Linked DNA regions of Homo sapiens. The protein of the gene in region 2 purifies or fractionates together with the protein of the main gene of each other region. This does not show direct contact. Each region holds a gene or a part of one and is shown on either strand. Other genes may lie near its edges.

What was found. The genes of interacting proteins can lie anywhere in the genome.
Region 1: the proteins of UNKL (region 2) and HECA purify together in Homo sapiens (affinity purification with mass spectrometry, with the first as the bait; one large-scale study listed by BioGRID). This does not show direct contact.

The regions. Positions count from the first base shown.
Region 1 is NC_000006.12:139,173,029-139,176,680, reverse strand, and holds part of HECA (headcase protein homolog), read right to left. Parts: intron 2,297-3,652; coding exon 2,142-2,296; intron 1-2,141. UniProt on the Homo sapiens protein: May play an important role in some human cancers. May be part of the regulatory mechanism in the development of epithelial tube networks such as the circulatory system and lungs.
Region 2 is NC_000016.10:1,404,620-1,408,271, reverse strand, and holds part of UNKL (putative E3 ubiquitin-protein ligase UNKL), read left to right. Parts: intron 1-3,652. UniProt on the Homo sapiens protein: May participate in a protein complex showing an E3 ligase activity regulated by RAC1. Ubiquitination is directed towards itself and possibly other substrates, such as SMARCD2/BAF60b. Intrinsic E3 ligase activity has not been proven.

The DNA of each region.
Region 1 (3,652 bases), on a different chromosome or scaffold from region 2:
AATAAGAAACCCCTCCCCCTGGATTTTAAGACAGCGGCTGAAGCTGACTTCCCTCACCCAAACCTCCACGAAACTTCTTTGAAATTTCATTTTTCATTCTACTCTATAGAAAAGTTGCGTTTTCTTTGATGTAAAAATAAAATTTCCCAAGATACTCAAGTAAAATTAGCAATCCAGGAAGTGCGGTGCTGGTCTGAGGCTTCTGGAGTTCCCAGCACCCTGCATCTTCACTCATGCCTAGCCTCTCCGTAACAGCACAGTCCTGGAACCTTTCAGCAATGGGTCCAGGACTTAAGTGAATAACCACAAATTATAAATAAAACAGACTCAATTTAGACTCATTTTAAAAATGTACTTAAAAAGTATAATCTCAACTTGTTCTCAAAATACTCCTGGGAGGTAGGTAGTATTAGCTGACTTTTAGATAATGCAACTGAGGCACATGTGATAAAGCACCATGCCAAAGACCATGGTTAGAAAGCAGCAAGGCTGGAGTGAACCAAAGCAGCCTGCTGATCCTCAGCCACTGCAGGAACTACTTTTCTGTAACCTGAGATAAACACTCTTTTAACTACGTAATCTCTCTGAACAACATTAAAAGTGTGATTCTGAGCAAACCCGTCTTCACACTGTTATACCTTTCTAAGAATCAATTATTGCTTATTTTTGGCTACATCTTATTGAAGACTTCCCTTGATTCATTAGTAGCGTCTAACACTTGTATCCTCACTGATTTTTTTAAATTAACAATAATCGAACATATTTTCCATTTCAGTAGGGGGCCAGAAAAGAAAGGTCTGGGCTTCAATTGTTTTAAGGAAGAAATACAGTGCATGGTGAATACCAAGAGGCTGGGTGTGGCAGGATGCTGTTCTGTTTTTCCTCCTAAAGACATGGAAATAATCTCATTGCCTTTCAATGGTGTACCAGAAAGAACACCAGAACAGGAGTCACACGGTGCAGTCATGGCTGTGACACAATGTATGTAGACCTGGGTAAAACATCCCAAGTTTGTAGGCCTCCATTGTATGAGGAAATAAGGAGGTCGGTCTAGATCCCAGGTCCTTTCCAGTGCTAATCTTCTGAGTTAACAGGCTCAAAAGTTCTTTCACTTCCTTATTTCTTCAATTTAAAAGATAATCCTCCACGGTGTGTGTGTGCAGAGGGGAGCCACTTCCTCTGGTTTCTCTCAAGAGCTGGCATCAAGGCACAATAACTATCATAAAATGCCACAGTGAATAACTACTGATAATAGTAAAGATACTCTCTTTACAAAAATCAAGCCATAATGCTAAAGACATAAAACTATGCAGTAACTAATGAAGTATGTATCAGCTATTTGTACTAAAAAACCAGGCTGGAACACTTTAGAGCAAAGAAAAATTTCTCTCCTGCCCATGAGAGTATCAAGGAATTACCTAACAAGCTGTTTTCTTCCCCAAGCACTTGGAAATAAAGCAAGATATTTCCAAGCATTTTGTCTCCTGTGATTCTATAGGTTATTTGTGTTTTCATATGTGAATACTTCCCTCTTTTTCTGATGACAGCTAAATTTCAGATGTCCTCATAGCATGAGACAATGCCTCCTTTTAGTAGTGCTTTAAGGATTACAACCTCAAACACCTTACAAGGCATGCAATTCCTGGATAACTGTACTATCCCACAGAAAGAAAACAAGAAAATCCTATTTAAGAAAGTGACTTTCTTCCTTTTGAATAACATTTTTTCTATTAGAAATTTACTATAAGCTAATCATACAGAATCTTAGAAAATATACTCAAGGAAAAAGAAAACTAAAGGAACCATTCAGCCTCCCACCACTGAGACCATCTGGTAACAGGTTAGCAATTCCCTTTTCATGCTCACTTACTTACAAATGCAAGCATATTATTATACCATTTTATAACCTGTTCTTTTGACCTAATATACTGGAAATGCTTCCCACATAATTATATATTATTCTACAGTATTCCTTTTAATGACTGAATAGTATTCCACTAAATGACTACATTACAAGTAGTAACTCAGCCATCATTGCTGGACTGAATTTCTTCTTTATTGCCAGACGCATCTTCCCTACATTCACTTGGGGACAGAAGCCTAATATCACCCACTGCTCCCTCAGTGTGTTCAGTACCTACCTGACAACATGGAGAGGCAGCCAGGATGTCGTAGGTGTACATAGTGCCCAGCTGGTGCCAGCTGCCATCCCACCGTGACTTACACTTGATGCAGATGATCTTGTGAACCCCTTCCAGGCAGTCCACGCACACGGCATACAGATGCATGAGTCTCCCTGTGCACAGAAGACACAAGGCTCTGAGTGGCCATCATGGAAATCACATTTCATCTCCAAGGAGATAAAAATGTTTCATCTACCAATTATAAGCAAAGATTTTATCATTTGGATAAATATAAAAAGAAAAATCAATATTTAGTACACAAGCTGTCCTTTCAGGATAATGATGAATTACTAGCTGTTGTCAATAAAGCATGTATTTTAAGTTCAAGCATATTAAAAACTTGGCTTCAATTCACTTTTCCAAAAAGGGCTGCTGGGCTTACATAATGGGTCCATCCAAATTCAAGTAACAAAGCCACATACACTCAAAACCAGCCTGTACTGTATTCACGCAGGACTTCCTGCTCAAAAGTTTATGTTTAGCATATAGAGACTTAACCAACACCACTGATCTTGTCACAAGCTCTCTTGTGACAAGTCCCATCATAAAAATCAAAAGTCTGTCTTGGGGACTGATAGCCCAGAATTACACCACAACCAAAATTACTGTTAACTATCCTTGTCCTCAAAATGCTCAGCCATCACCACATCTAATTTAGGAACCAGAATTATATCTTACTCGTAATTTTTTAAAAGAAGTTCAATGTCTTATTATTCACCGAGCTCTTAAAAGTTACAACATGATCCCCCTCCATTATTTGATAACATCTTAATGTTAATAAAGGAAAGATGTCATCCTAGTGTATATGGAAGCATCACAGTTTAAATAATTAGGAAAGAGTCAGAATGCCCAGAATCTGCCCAGGCAACGTATAACAGCAACATTTCTGCTCTGTGTGGAACCCAGGGTGCTTCCCCATGTTAAAAACTACCATCAGGAGAACACATAATCCTAAGTGGCCTCATATTCAGAATGTGCTGCTCACTGCCATCAGTCAGACTATGGGTCTTCAGCACTCAGTAGTAAGGATCAACCTGCTCCTTACCCGATGGAAAGGTATGTATGTTCCATCTACAGTACTTAGGGGGAGCCCTTCGTTTGCATTTACTTGCATGACCCCCTTCCTCCTTGAGGGCAAGAACCATGTCTTAGTCATCCTTGTAGACTCAGTGACTAGCACAGTGTCTGGGATGTGGAAAGCACTTTATAAGTGTATGTTGGGTAAATGGATGGGGCATGTTAACAGCCAAAGACAGATAACCTTGGGGGCCTTTATGCCAAAAGGGGGAAGGATGACAAGAACTTCTTGAAATACTCCCCACCTCTGCTCTACGGCATTGAAAATAAAAGGGTCTCACATGCCACATCTACTCTGGCCTCGGGGCATGTTAGGAAGTCCGTTCAAGGATCCAGGAGCCACTGGAAAAAATTTCATTTGCACTCTCTGTCCTGCATACTCAATGCAATTC
Region 2 (3,652 bases):
GGGGGGGGGGGCAGCTCCCATGTGGGCGTGGCCTTGAGGCCCCGGGGGTGTAGCTGAGGGGCAGGCGCTTGCTTTTCTCTTTAAACAGATTGCGGTAAAGAAATAGAAAAGGCGCCCCGCGGGACCCCGGGCCTCTCCAGGGTCCATCTTTTTTTTGTTTTTCTTTTGAGCCAGGGTCTGGCTCTGTCTCCCAGGCTGGAGTGCCGTGGCTCGATCTTGGCTCACTGCAACCTCTGCCTCCTGGACTCAGCTGATCCTCGTGCCTCAGCCTCCGGAGTACCCAAGCGATCCATATGCCTAGGCTTCCCAGAGTCCTGAGATTACAGGCCTGAGGCACCATGCCCAGCCTCTAGGCCCATTTTCATTGGGAAAAAAAAATACACGTGGCCTGCAGCTGTGTAGCCACAGAACGAGTGGCCATCTGCCAGCCCACCCCTGTCCAGAAGAGCGCTCCTGCACTGTGGCCCTGCAGCCACCCTGGGTCTCGTTCTCAGAAAAAACAGGCTTGCCCCATTCCTGTGGTGCCACTTTTCCAGATTGACACACAGACACAGGTTTGTCCTTTTTTTTTTTTTTTTGACAGGGCCTCACTCTGTCGCCCAGGCTGGAGTGCAGTGGTGTGATCTTGGCTCAGTGCAACCTCAACCTCCTGAGCTCAAGTGATCCTCCCACCTCAGCCTCCAAAGTAGCTGGGACCATAGGCGCACACCACCACGCCCAGCTGAATTTTTGTATTTTTTGTAGGGGTGGGGTCTTGCTGGTTTCGAACTCCTGGGCTCAAGTAATCCACCCACCTCTCCTCCCAAAGTGCTGGGATTACAGGAATGAGCCACTGCGCCCGGCCTCTGTCTTCTTTCCAGAGCTCTGTTTGGCGGTGTCACCTGACAGACCTGACACTTCCCGCTTGCCCTGTGCGCCTCCCCAGGCCTCTGTCGTCCGGCAGGTGCAGAACTCCTGTCTGGATGGGTCCGGGGTGTGCCTAGCTGGGTCTCCACTGTGCATTCTGTGAGTAACTGGTGGGAGGAGAAACTTTTCCAAGTATCCATTTCTAAGATTAACTGTTGCTGCTTGTATCTGGCGGGTCTGGAGTCTGATCTTTTTTTTTTCTTTCTTTCTTTTTTTTGAGATCGAGTCTCCCTCTGTCACCCAGGCTGGAGTGCAGTGACACGATCTCGGCTCACTGCAGCATCCACCTCCCGGGTTCAAGTGATTCTCCTGCCTCAACCTCCCGAGTAGCTGGGATTACAGGCGTGCGCCACCATGCCCAACTAATTTTTGTGTATGTGTGTATTTTTAGTAGAGATGGGGTTTCACCATGTTGGCCAGGCTGATCTCTTAACTCCTGACCTCAGGTGGTCCACCTGCCTCAGCCTCCCAAAGTTCTGGAATGACAGGCGTGAGCCACTGTGCCCGGCCAGGAGTCTGATCTTTCTATTAAAAGATCCTCTTGCAATATTTAATTTTAAAATGTTGAATGCCTTAGGACCTAAGGCGTAGGTGAAAGTTCCACTCACTTCAGGGTGTGTAGAATTTGCTGTTTAAACTGATCTCATGATGAGCTTGGGCTTTGGGAGCAAGAGGAAAGCCCACGGCCGGCCTGGGACGTGCGAGCAGTCTTTAAAACTCAGAGGCATCCGGGTGCAGTGGCTCATACCTGCAGTCCAAATACTTCAGGAGGCCTAGGCAAGTGGATCGCTTGAGCCCAGGAGTTTGGGACCAGCCTGGGAAACAGCAAGATTCTGTCTCTACAAAAAAATTAGGCCGGGCGCGGTGGCTCACGCCTGTAATCCCAGCACTTTGGGATGCCAAGGCAGGCGGATCACCTGATGTCAGGAGTTCAAGACCAGCCTGGTCAACATGGTGAAACCCTGTCTCTACTAAATATACAAAAATTAGCCAGGCATGGTGGCAGGTGCCTGTAATCCCAGTTACTCGGGAGGCTGAGGCAGGAGAATCGCTTAAACGCAGGAGGCAGAGGTTGCAGTGAGCTGAGATTGTGCCACTGCACTCCGGCCTGGGCAACAGTGAGACTCTGTCTCAAAAAAAAAAAAAATTAGCAATATAGCCCGGCATGGGAGTACGCCTGTTCCTCCCATCACCCCCAGCTGTTTCAGTGCTGTGCTCTGGGCCCCCCACCTATGCCTGCGTCCTTAAGCTGGAAGGGAGTCGTGTACACTGCCTGTCTCCTAAGCCCGGTGGTTCTCGCACGTTCCCTGGGAACCAGCCGGCAGTGCAGATCCACGGGCCTCGTCCACACCAGCTGGGGGGACCACATGGGCCACGGGCCTCCTAGGTGATTTTGATGCATGTGGCTCGCAGTCTCGAGAATGTGTTAAGGGGGTCTGGTGGACCCTCCTTGGGTTCAGGTGAGAGCTTCCTGAGGGAAGGGCAGCTTCTTGCACTCCAGGATCTGGCTGCCTCCTATCCTCTGGTCTCGGTGGGTCCAGGGCATTGGAGCGTGAGGCAGAGCGGTGCCCATGTGCTGGGTGTAATCACGTGGCTCTGCTCACTGATTGTCTCGGATGAGTTTGAGAACCGTGTTTGTCACCCGACCCCCGGGGGCTCGTGCGTCCCCTCCTTGGGCATCCGTGAGCAATGGCTCTGTGCTTTCTCTTAGGTATTCCCTCTCACCTCCTAGGTGTCCGTAAGAGTAAGGCATTTTCTTAAAACTTTTTCCAGTTTCTTTTTTTTTTTTGAGATGGAGTTTTGCCCTTGTCACCCAGCCTGGAGTACAGTGGCGCGATCTCGGTTCACTGCAACCCCCGCCTCCCGGGTTCAAGTAATTCCCTGCCTCAGCCTCCCGAGTAGCTGGGATTATAAGCGCCTGCTATCATGCCCGGCTAAATTTTGTATTTTTAGTAGACCAGCCAGGCTGGTCTTGAACTCTTGAGCTCGTGATCCACCCGCCTTGGCCTTCCAAAGTTCTGGGATCACAGGCGTGAGCCACTGTACCCAGCTGCCTGGCTGGCTGCCTGCCTTCCTTCCTTTCTCCCTCCCTCCCTCCCTGTCTTTCTTTCCTCTCCCTCCCTCCCTTCCTTCCTCGCCTCCTTTTTTTTTTTTTTTTTTTTTTTTTTTTTGAGACAGGGTCTTGCTCTGTTGCCCATGCTGAAGTGTGGTGGCACAATCACGACTCACTGCAGCCTTGGCCTTTTGGGCTTTAAGCGATCCTCCCTCCTCAGCCTCCCAAGTAGCTGGGACCACAGGTGTCCACCACCACGCCGGGCTAATTTTTAAATTTGTTGTAGAGATGGGGACTCACCATGTTGCCCAGGCTAGTCTTGAACCCCTAGCCTCAAGCAATCCTCCTGTCTCTGCCCCCCAAAGTGCTGGGATTACAGATGTCAGCCAGTGTGCCAGTCCTTCCTTCTAAGTCTGAAAAATACCCCACTGTGTGGCTGGAAGCCCGCGTTTACCCCATTGTGTGGATAGAAGCCCACGTTTACCCTGTCTTGTGGACGGAAGCCTGCGTGTACCCCGTCACGTGGATGGAAGCCCGCATTAACCATGTTGTGTGGATGGAAGCCCGCGCTTTCCTTATTGACTCCATTGGCGCCCACTTGGGTGGTTTCTGCCTCTTGGCTCTTGCGAATGACGCTGCTGTGAACATGGGTGTGCAGGTGTCTCCTGAAGACCCTGCCTCCAGGTTTTTTGG